5 separate regions of the Homo sapiens genome follow, and all the other regions are linked to region 4. Evidence: fine-mapped expression QTL. A gene starts in region 4. Each other region holds a variant in brackets. All regions are shown on one strand. Distances are between the middles of the regions.

Region 1 (6,193 bases), 310 kb after region 4:
AAGGGTCTCGTGCTCTACTGACTGAGTTAGCTGGGCACTAAAAGATGTCTCATTTAAAATCACTAACTATATCCAAAGGTATAATCTAAACTCACATGTATAAAAACAGTATATAATAAACTGTAACTAAGTATTTTAATAAACTAATTATTTGACATTCTCCTTAGTCTAAGTACTATTACATGAAAAGGTAATACTATATTCAATAAGTATTCACCTATTTTTCTTACTGCTTACCTACAGAAACTACCACCATACTAACATATTCCTGCATATTCACAGTTTTGGGGGTAAAACATCATGTTAATCATGTTGGTACACAGTCCCTGAAAAAGTGCTATTTTGACAGTATAATACATATAAATATGAAAAAAGTTAAAAAGTACTTTAACACTGACAGAAGCTCTAACATGAACTATTATATATGCTATTATTTTCTCTTGATACTCTTACCAATTTTTACTTAAGACTAGGAGAAAAGGAACGCGTTTGTACTTTAAAGGCATCCCACACTGAATACATTGAATAGTATATCCAACATTTCCATTATATTTCTAAATTAGCATTTAAATAGAAAGCATGAAGGCAAACTACAACAATAACAATAATGATAACATTTCAAGTTTCTCTGTCTTCCAGCTTTGTAGCGGGGGAAAAACTGGGTGACAGGTCACATTCCTGGTAAGGTAGTTCACTATCACCGGGGAAGAAAATCTAACAATATACATTTAAGAGACAATGTGCTACCATTTTCATTTACAAAGAATGAACCGTGGACTAGAAATTAACCACTGGTTGAGTATCTGAATTTGACTGTTTTCAATAAATTGATATTAAGCCAACAAACTGATGATATTTTAACAGATCCATATATGCTATCAGAAAGATGGGTTCTCAAACAATTCACAGCACAATCTAAACCACAAAGTAATGGCATGTTTATTTGGCATAAGAGGGGCATAAAAAGTTCCAAGTAAGTGAAATTAAGACGGGAAATATTTGAAAAGCAGGGACAGTATCCTACTTACTTTTATTTTTTCATATTCTCTCACAACGCCTAACTCTGACAGAAAAGGCCCACTTTAAGTGTTCCACTACATAAGCACATTTCTCATGTAACTGAGGTTTCTTCCTTAGATACAAAAGGTTATTTAAAAACTGATTAAAATGTTCCTAAAGTATAAGTCTTTCAGATTTTCTGACAATATAATGAATATAATCTAACTTGATGACTTGGGTCATCATTATGAACGAGTTATTTTGTTAGTTTTAAACTCCTAAGACCTGCTTTTACTTATTTTTTTCAATTGCTTTTTAAAAAAATTATTCATTAGCCGGGCATGGGGGCTTATGCTTATAGTCGCAGCATTTTGGGAGGCAGAGGAAGGTAAATCACTTAAGCCAAAGAGTTCGAGACTAGTCTGGGAAACATGGCAAAACCCTGTCTCTACAAAATATCCAAAGATTAGCCGGCCATGGTAGTGTGCACCTGTAGTCCCAGCTACTGGGGAGGCTGAGGTGGGAGGACTGCTTGAGCCTGGAGGTGGAGTTTGCAGTGAGCCAAAATCACACTACTGCACTCTTGCCTGGGTGACAGAGTGAGACCCTGTCTCAAAAACAAATAAATGAATAATTTATCAGTGTTTCATGCTGTCAGTAAATCTGCCTTAAACATCTCCTGTCCTAATTAAAAGCAGCTGCTACTACTTATTAGAATTACATCTTAAAGAACTGGTTTCCCATAAGGTCTTTCTATTTTAAAGTAGTGGAACATCCACATGTGTACTTTGTGCTCTCTATTTAGGCTCCTTTGTGCTCTCTGCTGGATTCTGGGTTAATTTTCCTTCAATATATGATGTATAATTTTTTTCTTTTTCTACAGAGTCTAGTAAGATGCTAAGAAAGTTTTATTAATATTCAGTCCACTGAGTTTTGACATAATTTCCCAACTCACAAAAGGCACTGAATTAAAGTCTTTCCAAAGATTTTTATATCTTCTATAATACAAAAACTAAGAATGATGTAAAGCTCATTTTTTTACCTTAACCTTCATAGATTTAAATTCAATTTTCCAGAACCATGGAAGGTAGTAATCAAACTGTTAAACAGAAGACAATACAAATTTATTGGGACTTTGAAAAATGTTTGACATTTAAATTACTTATATTTGAATAAGGGTATGTGATACGTGATTGAAAAAGGTTTAGGCCAGGTGCGGTGGCAATCATGCCTGTAATCCCAGCACTTTGGGAGGCTGAGGTGGGTGGATCACAAGGTCAGGAGTTCGACACCAGCCTGGCAAATATAGTGAACCCCTGTCTCTATTAAAAATACAAAAATATGCTGGGTGTGGTGGCACGTGCCTGTAGTTCCAACTGCTCAGGAGGCTGAGGCAGGAGAATCACTTCAACCCGGAGGCGCAGGTTGCAGTGAGCCGAGATCATGCCACTACACTCTAGCCTGGGCGATAGAGCAAGACTCTGCCTCAAAAAAAAAAAAAAAGGGTTTAAAGCAAATTATAAAAGACACACTAGCCTGTAATCCCAGCACTCTGGGAGGCCGAGGCGGGTGGATCACCTGAGGTCAGGGGTTCGAGACCAGCCTGGCCAATATGGTGAAACCATCTCTACTAAAAGTACAAAAATTAGCTGGGCGTGGTGGCACATGCCTGTAATCCCAGCTACTAGGGAGGCTGAGGCAGGAGAATCGCTTGAACCTGGGAGGCAGAGGTTGCAGTGAGCCGAGATCATGCCACTGCACTCCAGCCTAGGCAAATGAACAAGACTCCGTTTACAAAAAAAAGAAAATAAAAAGAAAAAGAAACACTAGAAAGCTCTTGACTACAGAAGGATCTGTACTTAGGTCAACTCCTCTGAAACTCAACTCTGTGCTGGGATAAATGGAATATACAGCATTAACTCCCTGCCTGATGTAAAACCAATGTACAATCTTTCTTTGGAAGAGAGAGGTTTTCAAACATTGTTTTCATGCAACTTTCCCTGATGGGATTCAAACCATCAAGCCAAACTGCAGTAAGTAGAAACAGTGAGCACTGTAAACCAAAGTTAAAATCTAGTTCTTAGTTGTGCAGAGTAGAATATGAATGAAGATAATGCATTCTCAAATAATTCAGTGACTACAGTCAACTGAAGCTTTGTTTGCCTTACCAGTCATATATATCTGGTTCACATTTCCTATC[A/T]TCTAGGTCCCCTTTTTCATTATTATTCTGAACATGTCAGTTAACATTTGATTCTCCATAAAATTCATGTTATTTGCCCTTCTACCCTACTCCCAAACAACATATTAATATAAACATGTAATTAAGGGAAGTGAGCAAATGTCTATGGTGTCTGGTGACTTATGAATAAACAGCTTGAAAATAAAAGATTAAATATTTTATAAAAGGACAGGGGCTAGCCCAACCAACCCTAATTAAAAATAAAAATTTTAGCACTTTGGGAGGCTAAGGCAGGAGGATCAATTGAGCCCAGGAGTTTGAGACCAGCCTGGGTAACACAGCAAGACCTTATCTCTTCCAAAAGATACAAAAATTAGCCAGGTGTGGTGGTTTGAGCCTTTAGTCCCAGCTTCTCTCAAGGCTGAGGTGGGAGAATCACTTAAGCCCAGAAGGTCAAGGCTGCAGTGAGCTAGCTATGATCGTGCCATTGCACTCCAGCCTGGGTGACAGAGCAAGGAGCCCCTATCTTAAAAATAATAAAAATAAATTAAAATAAATAAATATTTTAACCCACAGGTTGAGGATAAAATCTTACTCTGTAAGTGAATTCCTTGACTATAGGAACTTAGTTTTAATCTCTGGATTCCTACCAAGTTCCTGGTACTATACACAGCACATAGAAGACATTCAGAAAATAGTTACCTAATAAATAAGGCTAGAATCTGTAACTAAGCAGGTAAAAAGCACATTTTATCTGTTGTGCAACATTTCCAAAAGGTCATTTTAATTTTTAAAAGACAGTGTAACTATTTAAAGGTAGATTGATTTTCTCCCACAGCTGAGATAGTTTTCAGTTTTGTTAACCATTAACGAGTTTACCAGAAGATCTAGAATAAAAAATATATCGTACACATGATGTGACTGTTAAAACCCTAAATAAAACTAATTTTAAGAATAATTTAGAGATTATTACAACCAAAGCCATGAAGTAAAGTAATTAGGGCTTACTGAGAACTCTGAATATACTTAAATCTCCTTATACTGTAGTACAACAGATTTTGTATTCTAAACAGCTGGCTATAAAATAATATTAAAAATATTGACTTGATACCTTACTGAGAAAATGGGACATGAAATGGAGAGAAGAGGGAAAATTCCATTATCCTTCAATAGAATAGAATAAAATTTATTTTTTACAGGTGTTAGAAAATAAGATTAATGCACAATAATTTCTTTGCCTCATATCAGTATTCATATAGTGAAAGCCGTTATTAATGTTATAAAACCACTTATTACACGTAGTTTTATAACATAATTAAAACACTACTATTACATGTGTAATAAGTGGTTTTATAACATTATATGTAGTTTTATAACATTATTTTATAACATTACTTGTCAATATTTTTCCATTTACTTATGTTATCATTCCTTACAATATCTTCAGTTAAGAACATATCACATCATATTTCTAAAACTGAATAAAGAAAATACATATATAACCATATTGTTTGTAACTTATTTCCTATACTAAGGGAAGCTAAGGTCAAGAATCTTTCTTAATCATCGATGGAATCACGAAAGGTAAAGGTTAACACAGACATTCACAAGTTCCATCAAGTACAAGTCTTAATTAGAAGTATATTATGTAATAGAATTCTCTCTATGATGGGATCTGGTATTATGATTTCAGTGATTTCTACCTAACTTTCAAAACATCAACTTGTTTTCTCTCCAAGTAAGTTGGCAGCAGTGGACAGAATGAAAGAATAAGGCCCTTAGCAAATACAGGCTTTTACCAGGGTTTTACAACCTCAGCACAACTGACATTTGGGACAAGACAGTTCTTTGTTGTGGAGAAATGTCTGTGCACTGTAGGATCATTACAGTGTAGGATGTTCAGCAGCAACATTGGTTTCAATCCATTAAATGCCAGTGCCACTTCTTCAACTATGACAATCAATGTGTCCTAGGGAAGGGGAGCAAAATCATTCCTGATTGATAACCACTGGCTTATACAGAACTCTGTGACCAAAAAACTGGGGGAGTTAGCATCTCTGATCTAAGCTTCTGACTTCTCTAATATTCAGTCTAGCTAATGTACACCCTTTGGTTAGGTAAGAGAAGTATTATTATTGTATTCTGAATTTACCTTATTTTAAGAACATAATAAAGATTAATTTTATCCATTACTTGAAATTTCTTTCTTTTTAACATATCTTTTTACATACTGTAATCATTATGTACATATTATTTTGTATGTCTTTTTGTTTTGAGATAGTCTTGCTCTGTCGCCCAGGCTGGAGTGCACTGGTACAATCTTGAGCACAGTGGTGCGATCTTGGCTCACTGCAGCCTCTGCCTCCCTAGTTCAAGCAATTCTCCTGCCTCAGCCTCCCGAGTAGCTGGGATTACAGGCACGCGCCACTACAGCCTGGCTAATTTTTGTATTTTTTGTAGAGACAGGGTTTCACCATGTTAGCCAGGCTGGTCTCGAACTCCCAACCTTGTGATCCGCCCACCTTGGCCTCCCAAAGTGCTGGGATTACAGGCGTGAGCCACCGCGCCTGGCCTATTGTGTATGTTCTTAAAACTTAACATTTCACAAATATTTCCGTATTGTAAAAATGATCTACCAATTTTGCTAGCTATATAACAGTGTGTTAATATTGTTTAGTTAGTCACCTCGCTACTGCTGGACATATGGATTTTTTCCAAATTTCCACTACGAGGGGTGGTCTGCTAAATACACCATTGTGTACATTACTTTTGGGGGTAGGGAGGACAAATGGGGAGAAAAGTTAAATTCCAAATATCATCACAGGATCAAAGCAAACAGGCGGTTGTGCTCAATATGTATAGCTTTCCTTACATATTGATTATAAAATTTAGAAATAAATAAAATCTTAGATCTTACTCAATGTTGAGGGGCTTATCTGATAAAAGATGTATTAGAAAAGATGTGGTCTTACATTTAAAATTTAATTATCAATATTTATAAGACTTTCATTTATC
Region 2 (6,193 bases), 150 kb after region 4:
TGCTTTTTAAAAAATAAATGCTAAGGTGCTTGCTATAGTCTGTCAGGTACTTGAGCTACCTGTTTGCTCCCTTGGATACAGCTGGACTCTTTAATCAGTCCTCCTGAATAGATTGCTACCCTGGGGCACAATATGTGCCAGTGTGATGGAAACATTCTCCTTGGCTTTACTAGCCAGTCAAATCCCAGTCCAGAATTGATGGAAGCTATTTACCTGTGAGTTAATGTGCTTGTTTTAGCAAGCTTGATTCCCATTAGACCAATGTGGGCAGAGGTCTGAGGGGGTTCTTCTCAATTTTGCTGTTAGATACCACTAAACTATTTTGTATTAAAGAACAGTATCTTTTTGTGAATACTCTTGTGTAAATATATTCAAAGGCACTGTTCATATTTTAGGGCTTGTATTATAATTTGCAAGGTTTTAATGCTGGATTCTGCATGTCTACACATACAAAGACAGGGCTTGCTCCTCTGCAAAACTGAGGAAGACAGGTTTATTGGCTTGGTCATGAAGTAACAGAAATGGTCACACTGATCATGAAATGCAGCAAGTTTTGTGCAAATTAACATAGTCTCTTATTTATTGCTTTTGTAAATTGAATAAAGATGGACTTCTATGTAAATAGACTGCTGAATCCTGTATTACCACGGCTACTAAAAATTAGTGTGTAAAGAATGCATTCTTCATTGTAAACTTAAAGTATTTTATGTACTTCTAGAAATGACTTAAATTTGTTTTCATACATTATGAAAACAACTGCATACTCCTTAATTGCTTTAAACACCCATCCACTGTATGTAATTCTAATTACCTTATAACAGTATTAAGACAGCTTGTTTGTACTGTGCAATTTGAACAAGGAATGCAATGTTATTTTTTACAAAAAACAAACTTGTTTATTTTTATAATAACGATGTATTTGATGTGGACCAAATTCGTACCACTATCTAAAATAGCCTCTTTTCTCATAGTGCAGTTGTAGTTTAGAAACAAAACTTGGTCCTCTCTCCTTGCTTTTTAAAGTAAATGGCTAGATTTAGTTGTCTTAGCCAGGTTTCCTTTGAAGAGAAACTCAAAACCATTTTGAAACTGCTTAGTTCAGAATACATCGAAGTATTTAAAATTACTGAGTTGGGTAATTTACTATCATTTACTTTTTACATTACAAGTGCAATAATATTTCACAAAATGAAACTCCCGAATGGGTGGAGTATGTGATTATTGGTACCTGGTCCTTCTGGTGCTATTTTTATTTAAGTCTTTGTTTCAAACCACCTTTCCCTGAATCTTAAAGATAATGTTTTGCATGTGAGTACATGCAGCCCAGCAAGAAACTAAACTGAACTCTCTTCTCCTATCCTAGTCCATTAAGGAGAAGAACCAGCATTGCTTTTGTGTTTGGTGTGAATATTCAGTCAATAAAAATGATTTACCATTATAAAGAGCTGTGATCTTTTCAAGTATCTGAAATAAAACACTGTGCTGCTGAGTTCATCTCAAACATTCTTGAAAGCAGGGCACCAGTATAAGTTAACTGTATTCCTGTGGGTTAGGCCGTGAATGAATCATTTCTTTTATACAATATTCTTTTACAACTAATAGAGATAGGAGGCCCCCAGGCAAGAAGTTTGGCAGGTTTACAGAAAATTTGGTAATTTATTTGTTATATACCTTAATTTTTAAAAACCCATTTTTATTGTGGTGTTTGGTTCACATATCAACTGTTTAAGCCATAATTTTAGCCAATGAATTTAAATATTCAGTATAACTATTTGAGGTTTACTAGATGCATTTATTAATAAATTATTTGCTGAAACCAAAACAAGTCATTGGGGGTGTGGGAATAAAATCAACCTTTGCTTGTAATTAAAGTTGCTGCTATTTCTGTAATGTGTATTTTTCTCCCCTTGGTAAAGGGCAATAAAACCATTACACAAACTTTGGTTTATTCATCATCTCAGGTTAACAGCCACGAAAATCATCTTTTCATTATATAATTCTGCTTCTTAGAATTTTCCTTATGAAATGAAATTCAGACAGATTTATTTAAAATATTTATTTATATGTAGATTTAGAATGACAGCATCAAGAGTTCGCAACATCCTAGATGCCTGACAGTAAAATACTGGAGGAAACAGCCCATGTCGATGACATGGAAAATGTTCAAAATATAATGAAGGAATGACAGAAAATTATGTATACCTTAAGATACCTACCAAGCAAACAAAATTTTACATGTAAGTATAGAGGAACCTAGGCGTCATTTCTAATAAGCGGGATTAAAAAGTACTTTGACTTTTTCCCATTTTCCTAATTTCAGTCTCCATGGATTTGCCTATTCTGGACATTTCATATAAATGGAAACATATAGTATGTGAACTTTTCTATCTCACTTCTTGGCACCAAAGCATGTTGTTATTTTGGCTGTAGCCATCCAAGTTGTATATGAAGTAGTGTCTCATCATAGTTTAGATTTTCATTTACCTAATGGTTAATGTAAATCTTCTCGTAGGATTATTAGCCATTTGTCTATTTTTGAAGAAAAATGTCTGTTTAATTAGGTCGTTTCATTGTTGACTTGCTGGAGTTCTTTATATATTCTGGATACTACTCTTTTATGTACATATAAA[T/C]TGCAACTATTTCTTCATTCTGTGGGCTTTTCACTTTTTTAGGTTTCAATATTCAAGTTTTTTTTTTTAAGTAATGTTAATTACAGCATTTGAAGGGGAGGATCTAATTCCACACAAAATGGAAGACTCTAAAATGTACCCATTAAATACTGCTAAAAAAAAAAAACAAATTGAGTGGTGAGAATACAACAGAAGTCTGACTTAGACTGAGTGTTGTCAGCATGTGATTACAATCACACGGACTCTGAATCATTTCACTTTCTCCATAATGTCCTTTGAAACACTGTTTTTAAGTCCAACTTATTTTTTCTTTGGTTGCTTGTGCCTAATCCAGGGTTATGAATATTTACGACTAAGTTTTAAGAATTTTATAGTTATATCTCCTACATTTAGGTCTTTGATCCATTTTGAGTTAATTTTCATATATGATATGAAAGAGAGATCTGACTTCGTTCTTCTAACGTGGCTATTCAATTGTCAGAGCACCATTTATGGAAAGGATTTTTTTCCCATTGTCAAAAATCAACTATAGAGGTATGGGTTTATTTATAGATTCTTAATTGTATTCTAATGATCTATAATATCTTCTTATGCCAATACCACATTGCCTTGATTTCTGTTGCTTTGTAGGAAATTTTGAAAGCGAGAGTCCTAAGTTTGTTTTTTCTAGGTTGTTTTGGCTATTCTAGGTCCCTTGTATTTCCATATGAATTGCAGGATCAGCTTGTCAATTTCTATACTAAAATAAAGGCAGTTGGGATTTTCATAAGCGTTGTATTCATGACATAAAGCAAATGTGGAGAATATTGCCATATTAAGCCTTCCAGTCCATGAACATGAGATGTCTTTCCATTTATTGGGTTTTTAATGTCTTTTAACAGTGGATTATAATTTTTGCTAAGTCTCATACTTTTGTTAGATTTATTTCTAAGTATTGCTACTGTAAAAAAAATGGAATTTCCTGTTTTTGGATTGTGTATATAAATACAATTGCTTCTGTATATTGACATTGCATCATGCAACATCAAACTTTTTCTTTTTTGTGGATTCCTTAGGATTTTCTACATTGAAGGTCATGTTGTTTGCAACCAGAGATAGTTTGAACTCTTCCTTTTCAATCTGGATGCCTTTTCTTTCTTTCTCCTGCCAAACGGTCCTGGCTAGAGCCACTAGTACAATGCTTATTAGGTGGCAATAGTGGATATCCTTGTCTTCTGATCTTAGGGAGAAGCTTTCTCTCATCACTAATTATGATGCTAGCTGTGGGTTTTTTATTGATAAGCTTTATCTGGTTGAGGATGTTGCCTTCTGTATAGTTTGTCTTTTACAAAAATCCAAATCCCTTCCATGATAAAAACACTCAACAAACATACATTGCATCTACTGAAGTAGTCATGTGGTTTTTATCCTTTATTCTATTAATATGGTACATTACACTGATTTTCAAATGTTTTTGTTTTAAGACAGAGTTTTGCTCTGTCACCCATGCTGGAAGGAAGTGGCGCAGTCATGGCTTGCTGCAGCCTCAACCTCCTGAGCTCAAGCCATCCTCCTACCTCAGTTTCTATAGTAGCTGGGCCCACAGGCACACACCACCATGCCCTGCTAAATGTTGTGTTTTTAGTAGAGTCAGGGTTTTGCCATGTTGTCCAGGCCAGTCTCAAACTCCTGGGCTTAAGCAATCCACCCACCTTGGCCTCCCAAAGTGCTGAAATTAAGCATGTGCCACTGCACCTGGCCAACTTTCTGTTAAACCAACCTTGCATTCCTGGCATAAATTCCATTTGGTCATGCTGTAGAGCCAAACTGGAGGAAAAAAAAAATTATTACCAACATGTTATGTTTTTACAAGTCAAATATGGAAGTAGAAGTGTCAAAAAATACACTGATACACTCCAAAAATCCCTACGTATTTAAACTAAAAACAGACATTAAGAGCCATAACTGGGATTGCTGGCAAGATGGCTGAATAGGAACAGCTCTGGTCTGCAGCTCCCAGCGAGATCGACACAGAAGGCGGGTGATTTCTGCATTTCCAGCTGAGGTACCTGGTTCATCTCACTGGGACTGGTTGGACAGTGGGTGCAGCCCTGTGAGGGTAAGCCAAAGCCAGGGTAGTTCGTTGCCTCACCTGGGAAGCGCAAGGGGTCGGGGAACTCCTTCTCCCAGCCAAGGGAAGCCATTAGGGACTGTTAGGGACTGTATCTTGCAATCCAGCCCAGATACTGTGCTTTTCCCACAGTCTTTGCAACCCGCAGACCAGGAGATTCCCTCCAGTGCCCACGCCACCAGGGCCCTGGGTTTCCAGTACAAAACTGGATGGCTGTTTTGGGCAGACACAAAGCTAGCCGCAGTTTTTTTTTTTCATACCCCAGTGGCACCTGAAACACCAGTCAGAACCATTCACTCCCCTGGAAAGGGGGCTGAAGCCAGGGAGCCAAGTGGTCTGGTTCGGTGGGTCCCACCCCCACAGAGCCCAGCAAGCTAAGATCCACTGGCTTGAAATTCTTGCTGCTGGCACAGCAGTCTGAGCTTGACCTGGGATGCTCCAACATGGGGGGAGGGGCGTCCACCATTGCTGAGGCTTGAGTAGGCAGTTTTACCCTCACAGTGTAAACAAAGCCACTGGGAAGTTCAAAATGGGCGGAGCCCACTGCAGTTCAGCAAGGCAACTGCAGCCAGACTGCCTCTCTAGATTCCCTCCTCTCTGGGCAGGGCAACTCTGAAAAAAAGGCAGCAGCCCCAGTCAGGGACTAACAGATAAAACCCCCACCTCCCTGGGACAGAGCACTTTGGACAAAGGGCAGTTGTGGGCGCAGCTTCAGCAGACTTACTTAAACGTCCCTGCCTGGCAGCTCTGAAGAGAGCAGCAGATCTCCCAGCACAGCATTGGAGCTCTGATAAAGGACAGATTAACTCCTCAAGTGGGTCCTCCCAGTAGGTGCCAACAGACACCTCATACAGGAGAGCTCTAGCTGGCATCTGGCGGGTACCCCTGTAGGACGAAGCTTCCAGAGGAAGGAACAGGCAGCAATCTTTGCTGTTCTGCAGCCTTCACCAGTGATACCCAGGCAAACAGGGTCTGGACTGGACCTCAAGTCAACTCCAGCCAACCTGCAGCAGAGGGCCTGAATGTTAAGAAGGAAAACCACCAAACAGAAAGGAATACTATCAACATCAACAAAAAGGACGTCCACTCAAGAGAACCCAGCTGAAGGTCACCAACTTCAAAGGTAGATAAATCCACGAAGATGAGGAAAAAACAGCAAAAAAAGGCTGAAAATTCCAAAAAGCAGATCACCTCTTCTCCTCCAAAGGATCACAACTCCTTGCCAGCAAGGGAACAGAACTGGACAGAGAATGAGTTTGACAAATTGACAGAAGTAAGCTTCAGAAGGTGGGTAATAACAAACTCCTCCAAGCTAAAGGAGTGTATGTTCTAACCCAATGGAAGGAAGCTAAGAACCTTGAAAAAAGGTTAGATGAATTGCTAACTAGAATAACTAGTTTACAGAAGAATATAAATGACCTGATAGAGCTGAAAACAACAGCACGAGAACTTC
Region 3 (6,193 bases), 240 kb after region 4:
GTACGGTAGAATATAAATGAATAAAAGCAGATTTTAAACACGTAGGTGTGCTATTACACATAATACACTTCCATTTTGGGGGGTAAATTGCAGATGAGCCCCTCTCTTACACCAGTTTCCATTGGTGTTGGGACTATATTGTTTGTAGAACTATTACTAGTTACCTCTTTGATTTCTAGATCGAACAGGATATATTGTTTGGATAATATTTCTTCTGTTTCGGGGAACAGAACCAATATTATCCAAACAACATACCCAAACCATAGGATCCAACAATAGTGGGGAGAGGATAAGTAGGCAGAGGATTGTTGGATCCTACTGTTTGGATATATACAAACAGAGCTGCTCCTCCACACAGCCTGGGGGCTGTGCGAGAATGCTATTAATATGCAGACTATGACAAACAGCCCAGAATTGGTAGCTCACTTGATGCTTTTGAAATCACTTGTACACAGATTATCTCACCTCCCTCTCAACCACTCCAAAAGACTGATTTAGGTCAAGAACAGATGAACTTGTAATTTCATAGAACTGGAGGCATGGGAAACTAAGGAAACCTGTAATCAAATTTGAACAGAAGGTCTTCAAACCCAAAGTACTTGATTTGAATTAATAGTATTATAAAAGTTTTTTCAAAAATCTGAGTGGCGATGAGAGGGTCAGATGATGACCCAGCTGTGGGAAGAGAGGGTGGGGATGGGCAAAGAGCAAGGTATGTATATTAGTGCTGTGCTTCCTGTTCCTTTTCTATTCGTGAGCCCTCAGGCAAGTTACACAAGCTCCCTGAGCCTCATTGGCCTCATCTGTAAAATGGGACTGGTAATAAGAATGGGTTGTTTGAGGCCAGGCACAGTGGCTCATGCCTATAATCCCAGCACTTTGGGAGGCTGAGGCAGAAGGATTGCTTGAACCCAGGAGTTTGAGCAACATGGTGAGACCCCATCTCTACAAGAAAATTTAAAAATTACCTGAGCATGCTGGCGCACACCTATAGTCCTGGCTACTTGGCAGGCTGACACAGGAGGATCACTTGAGCCGAGGAGGTCAAGGCTGCAGTAGGCCATGATTACACCACTACGCTCCAGCCTGGGCAACAGAGCAAGACTCTGTCTTGGAAAAACGGGGGAGTGGGGGGGTCTTGTTTGAAAACCAAATGAGTTAATTTGTATGTATAACATGTGCAGAGTATGCTCATTAAATGAGTATTATATTTCTTATTTTCTGAAAAACCAGGAAAACAGTACTTTCTTATTTCTTCTTCAGAAGATGGGGCCAAGAGGGTGGGGAAGCCCACAGCCATTGCCTTGTCTTAGTAGGTCTAGGAGGCAGGGGGAGGCCTCTGCCATCCTTGCATGGTTGGGAAGAAGTAGAATTATACAGCAGTGACCCCAAAGGCCGACCTTGAGCAGCTAGAGGATAGGGGAGGTGGGCATCACTCACTTTGCAGTTTTGCCAGCGTGTCACTGTGGCTGACTGACCACCTCTGGCCAAGTTTGAAATAAAGACAGGGTGAGCTGAAATTCACATGACTGAGAGGCAGTGGAGCAGAGTGGTTCATGGTCTAGATTTCAGAGCCAGTTCAGCTGGGTTGGAATCCCTGTCTCTCCACATCCCGGCTGTGGCACCTGGCCGTGTTACTGAGTCCCCCTTTGCCTAAGTTTCCTCATCTGATGAAAAAGGAATGATGATGATGATGATGATGATGATAACAGTACCAACCTCTCAGTCTTGTTTTGAAGATTAAAGGAGTCCATTTGTATGAAGTGTTTAGAACTGCATCTGGCATGTGGCAGGGGTTTGCTCTTATTATTAGGCACACACTATGGAATGAATAGGAGAGACAATTTAGGTCAGAAAAGGTATCTGAGATATTGTTTCCCTGGATCACAGTTTACACTTGTAGACAGGTGGCAGAGAGCTTCAGAAAGGCTTGTTCAAGCTCAGATAGTCAGATGGCAGGAGGGAGGCCAAGAACCTTGGCTCCTCAACCCTTGGTCTCTGTGCTCCCTATGTAGCCACACTTGTGAATCCAGGCAAAGTTGTGTCATGAATATGAGACATCACCAGCTCTCTCATTGCTATGTCACCTCTGTGGGACCCCAGGAATCTATAGGCTCCCCACCTTAGCTGGAACAAAAGCTGGAATAAAGCAGGTAACAGGGTCAGCAGAGTTACCCTAAGTCGTTTGGGACTGCAGACAAGTTCACGGGAAAGGAAAGTTACTTGTTTGGTACCAAAAGCCACCAGCCAGCTAAAGAAACAACCCTGCCCTGGGGGTTAGAACGGCAGCCCCCGCTGAGGCAACTGGCCCAGCATTCCAGGGATTCAGACAACCCGAGAGCACGTACTCTGGAGGGAATATCGTGGCAGAAAACCGGGCCTCACAGTTACTGCTGGTCACATGACCCTCTGGTAAAGGCTAAGCGCAAACAGCAGAGAAGGAAATCTGATTTTTCCATAGGAAGACATGCTCTAATAAGGTTCTGATCTTTTCAATATCATTCATTACTTAATATAAAATATTATGCCAAAACATAATACCAAATAAATACCGCAGTAAACCATGCTAATCATAAACAATTAGAAAACATAGAAAACGTAATGAAGAAAGTAGAATTATCATTTTTATGTGGTTCTTTTTGGCTGTTTATGTGTATATAATATATAACTTGACACAATTTAGGTTATAAAGTACATTAAATTGTATATTCTGAATTTGGTATATTATTTCTTTTATTTATTATTTATTTATTCTTGAGACAGGGTCTCACTCTGACAGCAAGCCTGGAGTGCAGCGGTACGATCATGATTCACTGCCTTGACCTCCTGGGCTTCAGCAATCCTCCCACCTCAGCCTCCTGAGTAGCAGAGATAACAGGTGTGTGCCATCATGCTTAGCTAATTTTTGAAATTTTTTGTAGAGCTAGGATCTCACTATCTTACCCAGGCTGATCTTGAACTCCTGGGCGCAAGCACTCCTCCTGCCTTGGCCTCCCAAAGTGCT[G/A]GAATTACAAGGGTGAGCCACTGTTCCTGGCCTGCTTTTGGTATATTATAAGCATTTTTCCATGTCATTAAATATTCCTTAAAAATATTTTTAACAGCTGCAAAGCATTCTGTTGGATGGATGGACCATAATTCTTTGAAATATTATTAGGTTATTTTCAATTGTTTTTACAGCTACAGGAATGCAGCCCTAGATCACTTGTACTTCAATATGTGTGCACACCTCTGATTATGTCCTGAGGTTGAAATCCTGACATGGACTGGCTACTGAGGTTTTGCTTCTGCCCTTAGGAAGGACTTAAAGCTCCCCTTTCAGGGCCCCTTGGGAATGAGGAGGAGAAGGAGTGAAGTTAATGGAACAGATGCAAAATCATTCTCAGGACATGGTGGTAAAAGGTGAGGGTGTCAGTGATGGTAGGTTGGAAATGCTAGTGTCCACATGGGGGCCTCTCTCTCTAGCTTCCCACTTTTGGGGATTCTGTTCTCTAGCCTCCTGACCTGCCATCTTAGAAACCTGTCTCAAATGACTGTAGCAAAAGGGAGAGTCAATTGGAAGAATCCTGAAATATCTTCTGTAATCAAAAGAAGGGCATTTGACCAAACCATGGGAAGGGCAGGATACAGCTGGCCCTGGACCAACCAAATAACCCCATGGGAGGGCAGGTTCTCAAAGAATATGAAACTTCCACTTTGACCTCAAGGAGTTGGGGCAGGACAGTGCTCTCAGAAAAAGGAGATACTAGTTCCTGGAGAAAGGGAAGGCTCATGGCCTTTTGGATGTTGTTTTCTAAGAAGATGAGGTGGCAAGATGGACTTGGGGCTGCTGCCTCCCACTAGGGGCGCTACCTGCCCATGCTGTGGAAAAGTCTGGGCGTGGGAGCCTTTGTTCTGGTTTTGCTCGAGGCCTGAGGGAGGAACATTCTTTTAGATTGTCTCTCCGTTTCTTCCTGCTTTCAGGTTGGTGAGTCCTCTAGGACAAAGAGATTCAAGTATGGACCTTGGGGACAAGGGTGAAGGCAGCCAGTAGAGGGTTGCTCAGAGGTATACAATTAGCACTGTGGGCTTCCATAAGGTGCAGCCCAGCTCAACAACCTGAAGCTTTCACACAGAGATGTGGGGCCAAAACGAGTCAATAACAAATGCTGTGCTGATGCCTAGAGTGTCCCTAGTGCACATCTTTCTCCTGTACCTGTGGTAGAAGAAGGCTGGGAGTCCTAGCCAAATATCTGTCCAACTCTTCATCACTATCCAGAACAGAAGAACATGTTTAGGGCTTTTGAGACACATTGCCAAATTGCTCTGTTAAAAATGGAATATTTTGGGATCAAGCGAGAAGTCCAAACCAGGGGGCTCTTGCCAGTCCTGGGCATGTCATCCTCTCAATCAGCTTTAAGTAGCATGCCAGCATTCTGCACAGGATAGAGTTCTCCTTAGAATCAGTTGATCAGACATGACAGTCACAATCATACCACTGCTATTTGACAAAATATCGTATTGCTTTCTTCGATATAATGTTCTTATATCATTTTAAAAAACAGCTCCTGCTTTTTTTTAAGTAAAAAAAGTTGCTAGGGGAATGGAGTACTTTCAAACGTTGTTGAATTCAGAAGAGCTTCACTGGGACCCTGTTTTGCTGTGCTTTTTGTTGCCACTGAAGTTTCCTTCTTGAGCACAGGCATTAGCGTTCAGGTTGTAGGCTTTCTGCTTTCTCAGGGGTTGGTATTTCTTTGAAGACTGGCCAAACATGGATGAACACTTCATTGCAAGGACTGCCTACCATGACCTCTCTAAGCAACAACATGCTGTGATTGGCAGTGGGCCAGGAGGGCATGTGACAGGCTCACACCAGTAGCCACAGACTGGTATTAGCTGAAACGTCAAACCCTGTGTGGTTGTTGTATAGTTGCATGATTGAATCAAAGAATATTAGAGCTGGACGGACCCTTGGAGACCATAGATTTCAACCCTTTCCACCAGATCTACCCACCTTACAAATAAAGGAATTGAGACCCAGGGAGAAGAAAAGGCTTATCCATGGTTACACATAAAGAATAATCAGAATCAAGAATAAGGTGAGGCCAGGCGTGGTGGCTCACACCTGTAATCCCAGCACTTTGGGAGGCTGAGGCGAGTGGACCATCTGAGGTCAGGAGTTTGAGACAAGCCGGTCAACAAGGTGAAACCCCATCTCTACTAAAAATACAAAAATCAGCCGGGCATGATGGTGGGTGCCTATAATCCCAGCTACTTGGGAGGCTGAGGCAGGAGAATTGCTTGAACTTGGGAGGCAGAGGTTGCAGTGAGCCCAAGATCATGCCATTGCGCTCCAGCCTGGGCAATAGAGCAAGACTGTGTCTCAAAAAAAAAAAAAGAATAGGCTGGGTGTAGTGGCTCACGCCTGTAATCCCAGCACTTTGGGAGGCCAAGGCAGGCGGATCACCTGAGGTCAGGTGTTCGAGACCAGCCTGGCCAACATGGCAAAATCTCATCTCTACTAAAAGTACAAAAATTAGCTGGGCGTGGTGCCGGGTGCCTGTAGTCCCAGCTACTCAAGAGGCTGAGGCAGGAGAATTGTGCCACTGCACTCCAACCTAGGTGACAACAGCGAGACTCCGTCTCAAAAAAAGAAGAAGAAGAAGGTGAAATTTTTACAGTGTTAAAAAATAAGAACCATCAGCCTAGGATCCTGTACCGAGAAATTATCCTTCCAAAGAGCAGAAGAGGCTTCCAGTTTTCAGTCTGGCATGTAAAGGGCATGGAAGTCATCACTTCATCCTGGCAACAAGGAAAAAGCTAAACAAACTGAAAAAATAACTCGTCCTAGATCTGTCAAGGAAGTGAGGTCACAGGACAAACTGCTGCCCCCCAAATTAGAGACAGACAGGCAGATAATGAGAATCCAAACTTGCTGGAGCAGAAACTCACAAGCAGAAACCTCTGAGAGCCAGTGTCACTGCAGGAAAAACCTGCTCTATGATTAACAAACGAATGGCTGGAGGCTTGGCAATGACAAGTCTGAGAGTTAAGAGCCCCATGGACCCAGTTATAGGTAAAACACTTTTGTGAGTTTACCTTCTGGAGCTCTACCAGGTTCTCAGAGTGAAGACTGAGGGAAAAATCCCTTTATGTTCCTGGAAGAGAAAGGGAAAAGGAACCATTTTGAAATATACCAGAGCATTCTGGTCCCGTT
Region 4 (6,193 bases):
AAAATATGATATTTGAAAGTTGAAGCCAGGCACGGCGGTTCACACCTGTTATCCCAGCACTTTGGGAGGCCGAGGCTGGTGGATCATTTGAGGCTAGGAGTTGGAGACTAGCCTGGCACATGATGAAACCCCATCTCTACTAAAAATACAAAAACTAGACAGGCGTGGTGGTGCATGCCTGTAGTCCCAGCTACTCAGGAGGCTGAGGCACAAGAATCACTTGAACCCGGGAGGCGGAGGTTGCAGTGAGCCAAGATTGCACCACTGCACTCCAGCCTGGGTGACAAAGCAATGCTCTGTCTCAAAAAAAAAAAAAAAAAGAAAGAAAGAAAAAGAAATGATGTTGAAAAATCCAGCCAATAACATTTTTGTCACAATAGGGGAACTCTCAAGTATAGGGTTTTGGAGAGTCAGATATTTCCTTTTCTCCCCGCCAGGGAGAAAGACCTAGAGGTTTCCCCCACTCCCTCTCACTGTCCAGAGCAATTACCACAATTTAGTTCAGCCTAAAGAGCATATGCTGTTGGAAAAACAGCAACAATAGACTTACTTGATGCAGGGATGCCATAAGCCTTAATTTTTTTTTTTTTTTTTGAGACAAAGTCTCACTCTGTTACCCAGCCTGGAGTGCAGTGGAGCGATCTCGGCTCACCGCAACCTCTGCCTCCCAGGTTCAAGCAATTCTCCTGCCTTATCCTCCAGAGTAGCTGGGATGACAGGTGCATATCACCATGCCTGGCTAATTTTTGTATTTTTTTTTTTTTAGCAGAAAGACAGGGTTTCACCATATTGGCCAGGCTGGTCTCAAACTCCCGACCTCATGATCCGCCTGCCTTGGCTTCCCAAAGTTTTGGGATTACAGGCATGAGCCACCGCGCCCAGCCAAACCTTAAATTTTTAAAAAAATCACACAGGAGGCTGGGTGCGGTGGCTCACGCCTGTAATCCCAGCACTTTGGGAGGCCGAGGTGAGCGGATCACCTGAGGTCGGGAGTTCCAGATCAGCCTGACCAACATGGAGAAACCTCGTCTCTACTAAAAATACAAAATTAGCCAGGCATGTTGGTGCATGCCTGTAATCCCAACTACTCCAGAGGCTGAGGCAGGAGAATTGCTTGAACCCAGGAGGTGGAGGCTGCAGTGAGCTGAGATGGCACCATTGCACGCCAGCCTGGGCAACAAGAGCGAAACTCCACCTCAAAAAAAAAAAAAAAGAAAGAAATCACACTGGATCTGTAGAAAGAACATCAGTTCTTTTCAGGCCATGTGAATTCAGGCACATCTACCACACCTGTCCTGTTTCCTCACTTGAGAAAGTGAGAATAACAACATCACACCAATGTCACTCACCTTGAATGTTTACTATGAATTAAATCAAGACAAGCATTTGGAATTATTTTGTGAATCTTAAGTGCTACACAGGAGTGTGGCAGAGGAATAAGCTTCTAAAGTCAGCAAGTAAGGTTAAAATTGAGTGCAATAAAAATTGCTTAGAAGTTCCTTAAATTGCCCATGAGCACAGTATGACAAACTTGAGACACATGAGAACAAAGACTCTCTGAGAGACAGCTGGGACAAACATTCAGTAACACTGCCAGCAAAATTGCTGCACTAGAACATTTTCATTTCCTCTTTCTGCCAAGTGCATAACTGAATCTAAGATGAAAGTATGATGCAACTTTGTTATTCTACAATTTGAAATTGGCAAGTTAAGAAACCTCTCTGGGCCTCTTTGTCTAATGGTGTAGCTCAGCTGGATCAGGGTTTCCTCCACGGTTTGTCTGACAAATACTGCCAGCTTACTATGCTTACTATGTTCCAGGCTGCTGTGTTGGACTGGGGGAGGGTAGACGCCAAGGAGACAATCTGATCGCAACAGGCTGGTGAGTGGTGAGGCAGTTTCAACCTCCATTTGAGGAATACAGGATTCTATCATCACCTTCCAGGGAATGCAGTGAATGTTTAGAAAAATTACAGAAAGTTACATATTTGGTTATGAATACCAGCTACAATGCTATATCTAATATGAATTAAGTTTCTTTGTTTCCTTTTTTCTGTTTATGTTGCTACTTTTTTTTTTTTTTTTGAGACAGTCTCACTCTGTTGCCCAGGCTGGAGTGCAGTGGAGGGATCTTGGTTTGCTGCAACTTCCGCCTCCCAGGTTCAAGCGATTCTCCTGCCTTAGCCTCCTGAGGAACTGGGATTACAGGCACCTGCCACCACGCCCAGCTAATTTTTGTATTTTCAGTAAGACGGGGGTTTCACGATGTTGGCCAGGCTGGTCTCGAACTGCTTACCTAAAGTGATCTGCCCGCCTCGGCCTCCCAAAATGCTGGGATTACAGGCGTGAGCCCCAGCACCCCGCCTACGTTGCTACTTTTTAATGTGGGGTCATTTTTTAAACCTGGCTTTTTAATTGAAAAAGTAATACAAACATATGGAAAAATTCAAACTGTACTAAAAAAGGTAGACAATGAGAAGCAAATCTTTCTTCTATTTCAGACTCCTCCTTCCCCCATTCCACACCATATCCCCTCAACCCTCCTTCTATTCAGACGTTACCACTGGGTCAATCCGTTGAAAGTTACAGCTAAGGTGATACCTGGGGTCCAAAAGCTAAATATGGACCTACGCTATCACCAGTCCCTTCCAGTTCTAAAACTAAGTCCAAGCCTTTTGCAGCACGAAAGAGATAGCCTCCTCTCATCTAAAGTTATGGCTGGTAAGGCTGAGACGAATGGAAATGGATTTCAAAGACATAGATTTAGAACTCCTGAAAGGCAGGAGACAGAACTCAATACTTTCATGGTGAGTGGTTTATTTACTGATTAAATAAACGCTCCCTTAGGGATGTAAGCTCCACACCGGCAGGAGCTTCATCACCAGCTCTCACTGCAGACCCCGGCATTAAAGGAGCTCACACGGTAAAAGCCCCTACCGCCCACCACAGCCACAGCGGCCGGCAGCCCAAAGTGGGAAACCGCGCCGGCCGTCACGTGACTCCAGCTCCCCCCGGCAACCGGCCCGCCCCCACCGAGACCCCGCCAATCCGGAAGGGAGGTCCAATTTGGCCAGGCCAGGGCGTGTTCCACCGGCCCAGTAGCCTTGCTGCTGCGTTATCCCTAGACTCGCCCCACTTGCCTCGGAGTCTCAGGCCGTTGCCTAGGTCCTCCCGGTAAAACCCTGGAGACTGCTAGGGAGAGGAGCAAGGGAGGGGCCAGCGCGCAGAAGTGCGGACGCAACCCGGCGGCCGCGGGCGAGGCTTATGCAGAGCTTCAAGAAACAGCTAGGGAGACCGCAGGAGTCTCCAGAGCGCGCGCGCGGGCCCTCCCCGGCCCGACCCACGCGGCGCGGCGTGGTGACGCCCGCGCGGCCTGAGGAAGGGGCGGGGTCGGGGCGGGCCTCCGCGCTCCTCCCGCCCTCTCTGTGTCCCTACTCTCCCTCCCCTTCCCTCCCCCACACTCGGCCCCGTCAGCTTGGGGGTGCCTTCGTCGCGCAGCCTTGCGTCGGCCCGGCCCGGCCAGGCCAGCGGGCAGATGCCCCGAGCTGCCGCCGCCGCCGCCGCCGACTCGGCCGGTGGCGGTGTGGGAGGTGGGCGACCAGCCCGGGGCCGCTGAGTGTGACGGACGCAACTGGGGGCGCCGGGGGCTCCGCACGGACCATGTATTTTCTGAGCGGCTGGCCCAAGAGGCTGCTGTGCCCTCTGGGGAGCCCGGCCGAGGCGCCTTTCCACGTTCAGTCCGACCCGCAGAGGGCTTTCTTCGCCGTGCTGGCCGCGGCCCGCCTCAGCATCTGGTACAGCCGAGTAAGTAGAGCCGCCCGCCGCCTTTCGCCGCTGCCTCCCCGGCCTCCCGGCGCCGTCCCACCCCCAACTTCCACCCAGAGCCTAGGACTCCTGCCCCTTCGTGCCAGACCCACCTGCCTTCGCAGTCCGCGTCCTCGTTCCACCGAATTGGCCGCAGGTACCCGCCGGCTGCAGGCACGTCCTCCAGCCGGCGGTCCGGGGTGGATGAAGTCGCTGCTGCCGAAAATCCCTGAGCCTCCCCGCGTTGGACCGACGGCCGCGGCGTGCAGACTCCGCACGCTCCCCGGCCGAGCCCAGACTTGTTCTTCTCTCCCTTCCCCCATTCCCCGAGGGACAAATTTGTTTAAACTTTCCACAATTAGAAATCCGGCCGCTGTGGTGCCCCAACCCTCCCTTACTTTAAAGGTCGCCGTTTTGGAGTTAGGGAAAGCCTCTTGGGCTTTACCCAGCGCCAGACTTTACAGGCCTGTAATAACTTATTTCTACAAACTACAGCCTGAATTCTTTATTCTTCACTAAAGGTCTGGTTATTTAACTCCCCTCTTTAACCCCAACATCCCTTCCCCACTTTCGAGTTGGTCTTTTTCTTTGCTGCTGCTCTTGGACTCTTCGGAATAGGGGGTTAAAGGAGCGGAAGTAGAACTCAAATCTGTCCGCGGAACTCCCAGTTATAACACCTGGAAATAATAAGGCTTGGGAGGAGCATGGAACTGAATTCTGTTTTTGCTTTAAGTCCTGGTTATCTTTTTCTTTCTTGTATTGAATTACTGAGTAGATATGAGAAAGAAATAAGTGGTGGATGGGATACTCCCTACTCTCTGCAAACACTGCTATAACTTTGTCTATGAGAACGACAGAGTTCAGAGTATAAAAATGCTTTTTTTCCTCCCCAAAGAAGGCAGTACCAATCGATGTCAGAGTGAAGTTTTTCTCCTTTCCAAGTTAATTTGACCATGTGGGGATAGGTTGTGATCTTGTCCTTATTAGGTGTTCGTGAAATACTGGTTTTAGTTTGTTAAAATCCCCAAATCTTTGTGTGTTGCTGTTCCATTACCTGTAATGCCCTTGACAGTCCTCACCCACTTCCCTGGTAATACTGGTGATGGGATTTAGTGACGGGTAATTCTGGTGTCTCCTTTGACTGTCATAGTTGGGCTGTAAATCAGACTATTTGCCATCAAGTTTTGGCTGATCTAATTTTCAAATGCAAATCAGAACAAAACAAACTTATAAAATCGTAATACCAACAATATGACTATTTTGTCTAGTGCCTGATTGTATTTTGAATATATATGTATGTATGTGTGTGTGTATATATATAAACATATGTGTAAATATATATAAAGTATCATCTGGTTCCTAAATGAGATATTCGTTTACAATGTATATGCCAGTTGAATAATTTTTAATTTGTTTAGGTGTATATAACTCAACTTTAAAGCACATGCAGAAAAAAATAGAACTTGAATTTAAATTGTCTTTTGAATTTAATACATAATTCCTTTTGAATGTAACAAATTTAGACTTTCGTCTAAAATTTAACTTTTCTTACCTTTAAAAAGGCAGACCTAACTTAATTTTAAATAAAAGTAAACAATATGACCTATGAATTGACCAGAAGCCTGTAAACCACTTTATTCCCCCATAAGAGAAGCATAAACATATGCTTTAATTTAGGGACATTGTGAATATTCTTAAGCATGTCTATTGTTTGGTTTTGGAGTTACATACGACATCTAGAAATCCAAGGCAGTTCTGGAATTTAAACTATTCATACTCTTCTTTCAAATTCCCACCTCACATGCAACTTCCTTTTTCCACAGAAGTCCAGGGACCCCTACTATTAAGTTCTGTTGTGCAAAAGTTAGGCTGTAGGGAACCCATGGGTTTAGAGGTCTGGAGTGAAATGAAATGCAGGAATACCTTAGAGGAGGCTGTATAGTACTGTAGTATGAGTGGTTAACCTTGGTCTCTGGGCACCAGCTTTGTTGTCACTGAAAAAAATCAGATATTCACGAGGTCAAGAGATCGAGACCATCCTGGCCAACATGGTGAAATCCCGTCTCTACTAAAAATACAAAAAAATAGCTGGGCGTGGTGGTGCACGCCTATAGCCCCAGCTACTCGGGAGGCTGAGGCAGGAGAATCGCTTGAACCCAAGAGGCAGAGGTTGCAGTGAGCCAAGATCCCACCACTGCACTCCAGCCTGGCGACAGAGCAAGACTCTGTCTCAAAAAAAAAAAAAAAAAAAAATCAAATATTGAACCAAGTGATTATAAGGTGTATGATTACATGCCTAGGTGAGTGGGATACATATGCTAGACTCCAGCTTCCAATCTTCTCTTCCTGGGATATGCCCTTTCTTACTCTGTATGAAAGTTTTCATTTT
Region 5 (6,193 bases), 120 kb after region 4:
AGATTGAGAATCACTAATCTTTAAAAATACTATCATGGAGTCTAGTTACAGAATATTAAAACTGAATGGTTCTGGAGGAATTTATTTGAACCTTCTCATTTTACAGAGGAAGAAACTTATATCCCGAGAAACGAGACAGCTTGGCCAAGGTAATATATACAAAAAGCCAAGCTATAATGAAGACTCTAGTCTCACAGCTTCCAATCCAATGTTTTTTGCTCCATACAAAACTGCATCTGTTGTAGGGGCTTCTTTGCCAGGCTTCTACTGGGTAACCTGGGGTGTCTTCTGTAAGGAATTTCTTTGTATTTGAGAGGCAGCTAAATTAAAGCAATAGAGAAGTTACAGAGCACAGTAGGTATTTTTAGGATTAAGACCCTGAAATTGGCATTAAGAATGGTAGGTAATGTTTTCACTTTTGCAGATAGAGAGCAGTGATGGTGATTTCCTCTGGAGTTAGTTAAGAGGTAACTGAAGGTGTGATTCTTGTCTGTGTTATCACGGTTTCTCCAACCTTCACAAATCATTAATAATGCTATCATTGGCTATTTCAGAATTTGAATAATTGAAGCTAGAAAGGGATACAAAAGCCTTTTATTGCTCTGACTTTTTTTCTCCCTCCTCTTCTCTCTAAGAGCTGGGGTGCAGAAGGCTATCACCTATGGGTAATCAGCGGATTTGGTTCTCAAAACACTGAAATTGAGTCTGACCTCAGGAGTGTAGTTAAACAGCCCAGCATCCTGTTATTTCAGTTTATTAAGAGTGTACTCACTGTAAACCCTTGTATGGTAAGTATATTTAAAGCTCTGATTTTTTAGTGTCTTTTGTGTTAGAAGCTCAGACCCTTCTTTATGACATATGTATGGCGTATACTTCTAAAATTGGCATATTATCTTCTTTTCTATGATTCTTGTGTTTCTTTTTAATTTATATTAAATTTATACCAAAATTTTATTTCTCAACGGGTTGTGTTTCTTTGGTCTTATTTTTTTAAAAGGGTCATAAGCAATTTGACGGAAAGCAATGTTTATATATTTATTTAAATAATTTGAGTAATTTAGTCTTTATCTGAATAGCATTTCCCAAAGTGTGTTCCTCCAGGCACTACTTATGAGAGATATTAGTAGCAGTTCCACAGGATTTTTTAAAAGTTTTGTTTCCATATAAGTGTCAAATAAAGGTAAAACAAAATTGTAGAGATTGATTGTAGGGCTCCAGAGGCTTAAATATGCCATTGTGCATCATGAAAATCCAGGAGGTGGTATATTAAAAACAGTGTTCCCCATGCTTATTTAACTGTGAATTTTTAAGAAATAGCTTAAAGAAAGTATGTCTGAGGACTTGCTTTTAGAAACACCGCCCCAAACACTGCCTCTTGTATTTCTATCTGAAATAGTGTATACTAATATTATTATATATCGCTAATATACAGTAATGGTATATGTTACATGTTAGAAATGTGTATCTTAATACCTACCATCAATGGCTTTTTAATGGATATTTGGTACAACAAATTTCTAATTAAAATTTACGAACATCCATAAAAAATGTGAAAATAGCCTGAATTTCAGATCCATTATTCCACTTGAAGACTAAGGATCCCCAGAAAAGAAGAGAGCATTTCTCCCTCCCCTTCCCCATCCCAAATAATAATTTAAAAGCACCCTTGAGTTTTATGTCAAGCCAGCATTTGGACTAAAATGGAAAAATGACAAGGGTAGGGTGCTACTTTGTCTGATTTCAATAGTTAATGAGTCTACTCACCTTTGAGAACACTGGCTTTCTAGCTGAAATCTCATAGTCACTAAGAGCACTATTCTTTCTAATTATAACAGTGCATGAGATTATTGTGTAGTCTTTGTCCTCTGTGAAGAAAATCAACATCGAGATACATGTACATTTCCTATAATAAAACTAAATCGATGTGTTATTTTTGCCTGCGTAATATTGAGTTGTTTTTATTTGTTTTCCTCCTTTGCCCTTTTGTTCCTCTTTCCCTCATTTAGAGTAACCAAGAGCAGGTGTTGCTTCAGGGTGAGGATCGCTTGTACTTGAACTGTGGAGAGGCTTCACAAACCCAGAATCCCAGGAGTTCTTCAACACACTCTGAGCATAAGCCCAGTCGAGAAAAGAGCCCATTTGCAGATGGAGGTTTAGAGTCTCAGGGATTAAGCACTTTACTTGGACATCGGCATTGGCATGTTGTACAGGTAAATCTTTAGTTACTGATTACTAGAGACTTATTCTTTGATAGGATATCACCTGGAACAGATTATTAAATATTTCATCTGTTAACTTCAGGCAACTGAGAATCCTTTTAACCATTTTGTCATGTCCCTCTTCTGCTTTTCTGTGTTCTTGTCCTCTAGTCTTCTCCCTCCTTTCTTTCCACTTGGCGTAGAGTGTATCCCCACCTGTTTCAAGTCTATTAATAATGTCAAGAACTAGAAGTTTATGTTTTGCCTTCTCATTGAGAACTATTTATTTTACTTTCAGCCTCTTTTTTTGTATAAATTTAGCTCTACGGATTTGCACAGGCAAAACAAAGTGTAATAATCTCATGGAAAGTGGCAACATCAGCTAGTACTCTGTACAGCTGACCTTACAGTCTTAAGGGGCCACGTTGAGGTTAATCATGTGACTTTGGACCCAAATTGCAGACTTGTGATCAGTAGAGAGCTTTATTGTTAATACTTTTATTAGCTAATCTTATTCCAAATTATTTATTCATTCTGATATCACTTTTAAATTAACAGTGTCTCACAGTAATTCTGATAAACTGACATTTAACATGGAAATTAATTCTCAATTTTGATACCAAGTAAAATTATTTTGGGGAAACCAGTAAGTTGAAGTTTCTTAAAAGAAACTTGCATACATAATTTCAGTCTTCCGACTGTTTTCTTTCCCTTTTTGATAGCA[A/G]AATATTTTAGGTACATCAAAGCCCACTCTTAGTTTCTTTTAGTCAGTTTCTGTTTCCATAATTCTTTGCCTTACTTTGACTCTCTATATGTTTACCCTACTAGCCTACTTCAGCTCCCATGTTATTTTCAGTTGACTTTGAGTGAAGATAATGAGAGACAAAAAAATGGTCATGTGAAAGGTTGAAGGATTATCTCCTACATTGACATCTGGTATACACTAAAAGAAAATGAACTTAACTTACATTAATAAATTCATAGAATCAAACAATGTACATACCATTTTATAATTAGTAACAATTTTTAAATAAAACTGCACTAGCTACTTCCTTGACTAAAATTTTCCACTGCTCCCTTCTCTCCTATAGCCATTTCTCTGCTATTTTCATTTCCCCATACTTTGAACTATTCATTCTACACTGACCTAGCATCAATGCCAGTTCTGCCTAGCCAGGTCTGTGTTACCAGAGAGCCAAGTAGAGCAGAGGATCAAAGAAGGTAGGTCTGGAACTAAAAAATCGATCAGGCAATAACAAAAATTGAATTTCCTTCCAGCTCAAAAACTCAGTGATTCTGTGATTCTTAAGCATCTATGAAGTACCCCATATAAGAGAAACATTTTAACACTGATTTTAGGACTTTGGGTACTAGCAAGATTCCACTGTTATTCTGTTCTTTAGATAGCTAAAGATATTTAGACAGATGAACTTTTAAAACTTGAGTTTACCTAGTTTATCAGTTTCCTTAAAAATAACATAAATAATGCCACATTGATTGTTTTGTACTGCTGAAACAATGAAAATGGGCTCATAGAATTTTTCAAGCTGGAAGGACCTAAGAGATCATAAAGTCCAACTGGATTTGATACATGAGGAAACTGAGGATCAGAGAAGTTATATGACTTGTCCAGTTCACCCAGCAGAGTAGTGGCAGACTTATCTTTATCATCACTCTACGTTAAAGTAAAAATCTAATGTATTTTAAAACCGAGGTACTGAGCATTAAATCACATAATACACCACTGACCTTGAGCTAAAACTTAGAATTCGCCTATTTGGCAGTTTGTACTTGGAGTTGCCCTGTATTTCGCTGGCACTCCAGCTACATGATTCAGTGCAGTTATGGTGGCGGTGTATAGGGCAGTATACAGTGTCTATATAATGCTAAACTTTTACGTTCTAGGCTTTTTAGCCATTTATGATGACTCCCTGAAGAAACATAGTTGCCTGGTTTAATTTGCCCCACAATAGTATCCTTTTTTCTAAGATAAGTGACCACATCCTCTGTCAAAGTTGATTTTGTTTGCGTGATTTATTCGTTGTATGTATGCTTCTTGTATAGCTTAGATGAACTCCAACTAATTCTGCTGCTTGTTCTGTTTCTCATTTAGAGTACTAGCTTTTTGTTTGTTTGCTTAAACCTGCTACCTTATACTCCTTAGCTTCCAGATTGGAAGATTCTATGTTACTTATGATTTTTCTTTAACTAAAACAAAACAAATACATACTTGTCAGAAGCAGGATTGGTAACTGGCAGTAAAGGCGGTGCTTTTTTTTTTTTTTTTTTTTTTTTTTTTTTGAGATTGAATTTTGTTCTTTGTTGCCCAGGCTGGAGTGCAGTGGCGTGATCTCAGCTCACTGCAACCTCCACCTCCAGGGTTCAAGCGATTCTGCTGTCTCAGCCTCCCAAGTAGCTGGGATTACAGGCACCTGCCACCATGCCCGGCTAATTTTTGTATTTTTAGTAGAGACGGGGTTTCACCATGTTGGCCAGGCTGGTCTCAAACTCCTGACCTTGTGATCCACCTGCCTCAGCCTCCCAAAGTACTGGGATTACAGGCGTGAGCCACCGCACCCAGCCAAAGCAAGCACCAGCAAGCACCAGCCAAGGTGCTTTTTAAAAAGTTTTTTCTTACCTATAAGTTTTAAAACTTTTGAAGTCATTTGTTGACATATGGGGCACAAACTATTGAAATTTTACAGAACACAAAGTTTCTAGTTTTAGGCCATGTTCCTTCTAAGACTGCCATTTATTTTAATGCTCAGTATTTTGTATGATGTAAGCATTTACTTCTGAAAGGTACATAAATCTATTATCCATTGTTCTGAGGGTGTTGGTTTGATGGTTAGCTTGGCTATTTAGAAAGAATAAGCTTCACAAAATGTGGAAGATAAGCACCTACAGGGTATCAGGCACTATGTTAGGGATTTCAACAGAGAGTATTTAAAGGCTCTTTCATTCATAAATTATTTACTGTCTTCCTACAGTATGTATCAAGTGTACCAGGTATTTGGCACAGAACAAATCTGCTAGGAGGATGGCTCCCACAGTCTCACTAGTTATAGACAAAACTAATCTAGGCAGGAGACAGAGTTTTAGCAGAGTTACTTTAAAATTTAAAAATCATAATAACAAATGAGGGCGGATTCAGTTTCTTTAAGAGAAACTGAAACATTCTAAGATAAGGGTAGAGTTTCTGTACCTTAGCACTCAGTTTTCCAGTGATGTGGCATGACTTCAGTGCCCTGAGTGTGCTTTCATGACCTGTTTTTTTTGTCACTGATCAGCTGCCTCTTCCTTACTTCTGCCATTCCCTTTTATCAAGTATTAGAGGTAGAGCTCAGAGTTCAGATGACACATAGATCAATAAAGTTGACCTACTGGAGAAAATACATAGTATCTTTAGACACAAACTGCATGAAAAATAAAGCTTCATTCTAAACTTAACACCTTAAGTTTTTAAAATACATCATTTGTGGCACTTCATAGATTTTTGTAGAATAAAGAATAAATTGTTTTATAGATATTGATCATAGTGTGATCATTTGATAAGATTTAACTTTGGTTCCCATTATTAGAAACTCTTTGTGTTAGAATCCACTTTTGCAGTAAGATCCCAGCTCCTCCATTACCCACCCACACGTTTCATAAGTACTCATGAAACACCAAGGTTTGAGGGAGGTAAGGATTCCTTTTAGTGCAATGGATGATTGACACAGTTATACTCAGGTACATCCTCCTGCTGTGAGTGACTGCTGAAAAAAGTTGAAAATGCTTTCAAGTTTTATTTCACCACCCAATCATTACCTTAAGTGTACCATTATTCTGAACTAATTTTACCCATCATAGTGATCTTTTTGGGGGTCTGGGGGGCAGGGAGACAGAGTCTCACTCTGTTGCCCAGGCTGGAGTGCAGTGGTGCAATCTCGGCTCACTGCAACCTCCGCCTCCAGGGTTCAGGTGATTCTCCTGCGTCAGCTTCCCGAGTAGCT

Alleles and levels. Positions count from the first base shown, and alleles are read on the strand shown. Sizes are in standard deviations (SD) of each study's normalised expression. Not every link is listed here.
With allele A in place of G in region 5, the expression in monocytes after R848 of the gene that starts at base 3,458 in region 4 is higher (moderate effect, 0.51 SD a copy in Quach 2016).

What was found. PIP is the estimated chance that this variant, and not a neighbour inherited with it, causes the effect. A credible set is the group of variants that fine-mapping cannot tell apart.
Region 1: its variant is the best candidate, but not a certain one, in a credible set for the expression of RIC1 in whole blood (INTERVAL, PIP 0.69).
Region 2: its variant is the best candidate, but not a certain one, in a credible set for the expression of RIC1 in tibial nerve (GTEx, PIP 0.88).
Region 3: its variant is the best candidate, but not a certain one, in a credible set for the expression of RIC1 in whole blood (INTERVAL, PIP 0.73).
Region 5: its variant is the best candidate, but not a certain one, in a credible set for the expression of RIC1 in monocytes after R848 (Quach 2016, PIP 0.53).

What each region holds. Positions count from the first base shown.
Region 1 is chr9:5,934,742-5,940,934 of GRCh38, forward strand. The region is part of intron 5 of BRD10 (bromodomain containing 10); the gene reads right to left. Among named protein-coding and RNA genes, the nearest start is that of MLANA, 47 kb to the left of the region's middle. The variant A/T (reference allele first, on the strand shown) is at 3,200.
Region 2 is chr9:5,774,620-5,780,812 of GRCh38, forward strand. RIC1 (RIC1 partner of RAB6A GEF complex) reads left to right here. Exons shown (of 26, transcript NM_020829.4): 26 at 1-1,938. Among named protein-coding and RNA genes, the nearest start is that of ERMP1, 55 kb to the right of the region's middle. The variant T/C (reference allele first, on the strand shown) is at 2,631.
Region 3 is chr9:5,866,083-5,872,275 of GRCh38, forward strand. It overlaps a transcript of ERMP1 not described here. Among named protein-coding and RNA genes, the nearest start is that of MLANA, 22 kb to the right of the region's middle. The variant G/A (reference allele first, on the strand shown) is at 3,005.
Region 4 is chr9:5,625,650-5,631,842 of GRCh38, forward strand. It overlaps RIC1 (RIC1 partner of RAB6A GEF complex), which reads left to right and starts at 3,458. Exons shown (of 26, transcript NM_020829.4): 1 at 3,458-3,804. The coding sequence starts at 3,661. INCR1 (interferon stimulated noncoding RNA 1) reads right to left here and starts at 4,078. Exons shown (of 3, transcript XR_007061406.1): 1 at 3,918-4,078. RefSeq lists enhancers at 1,648-1,867, 3,778-4,278 and a silencer at 3,218-3,757.
Region 5 is chr9:5,745,296-5,751,488 of GRCh38, forward strand. It overlaps RIC1 (RIC1 partner of RAB6A GEF complex), which reads left to right. Exons shown (of 26, transcript NM_020829.4): 11 at 636-788; 12 at 2,007-2,210. Among named protein-coding and RNA genes, the nearest start is that of ERMP1, 85 kb to the right of the region's middle. The variant A/G (reference allele first, on the strand shown) is at 2,923.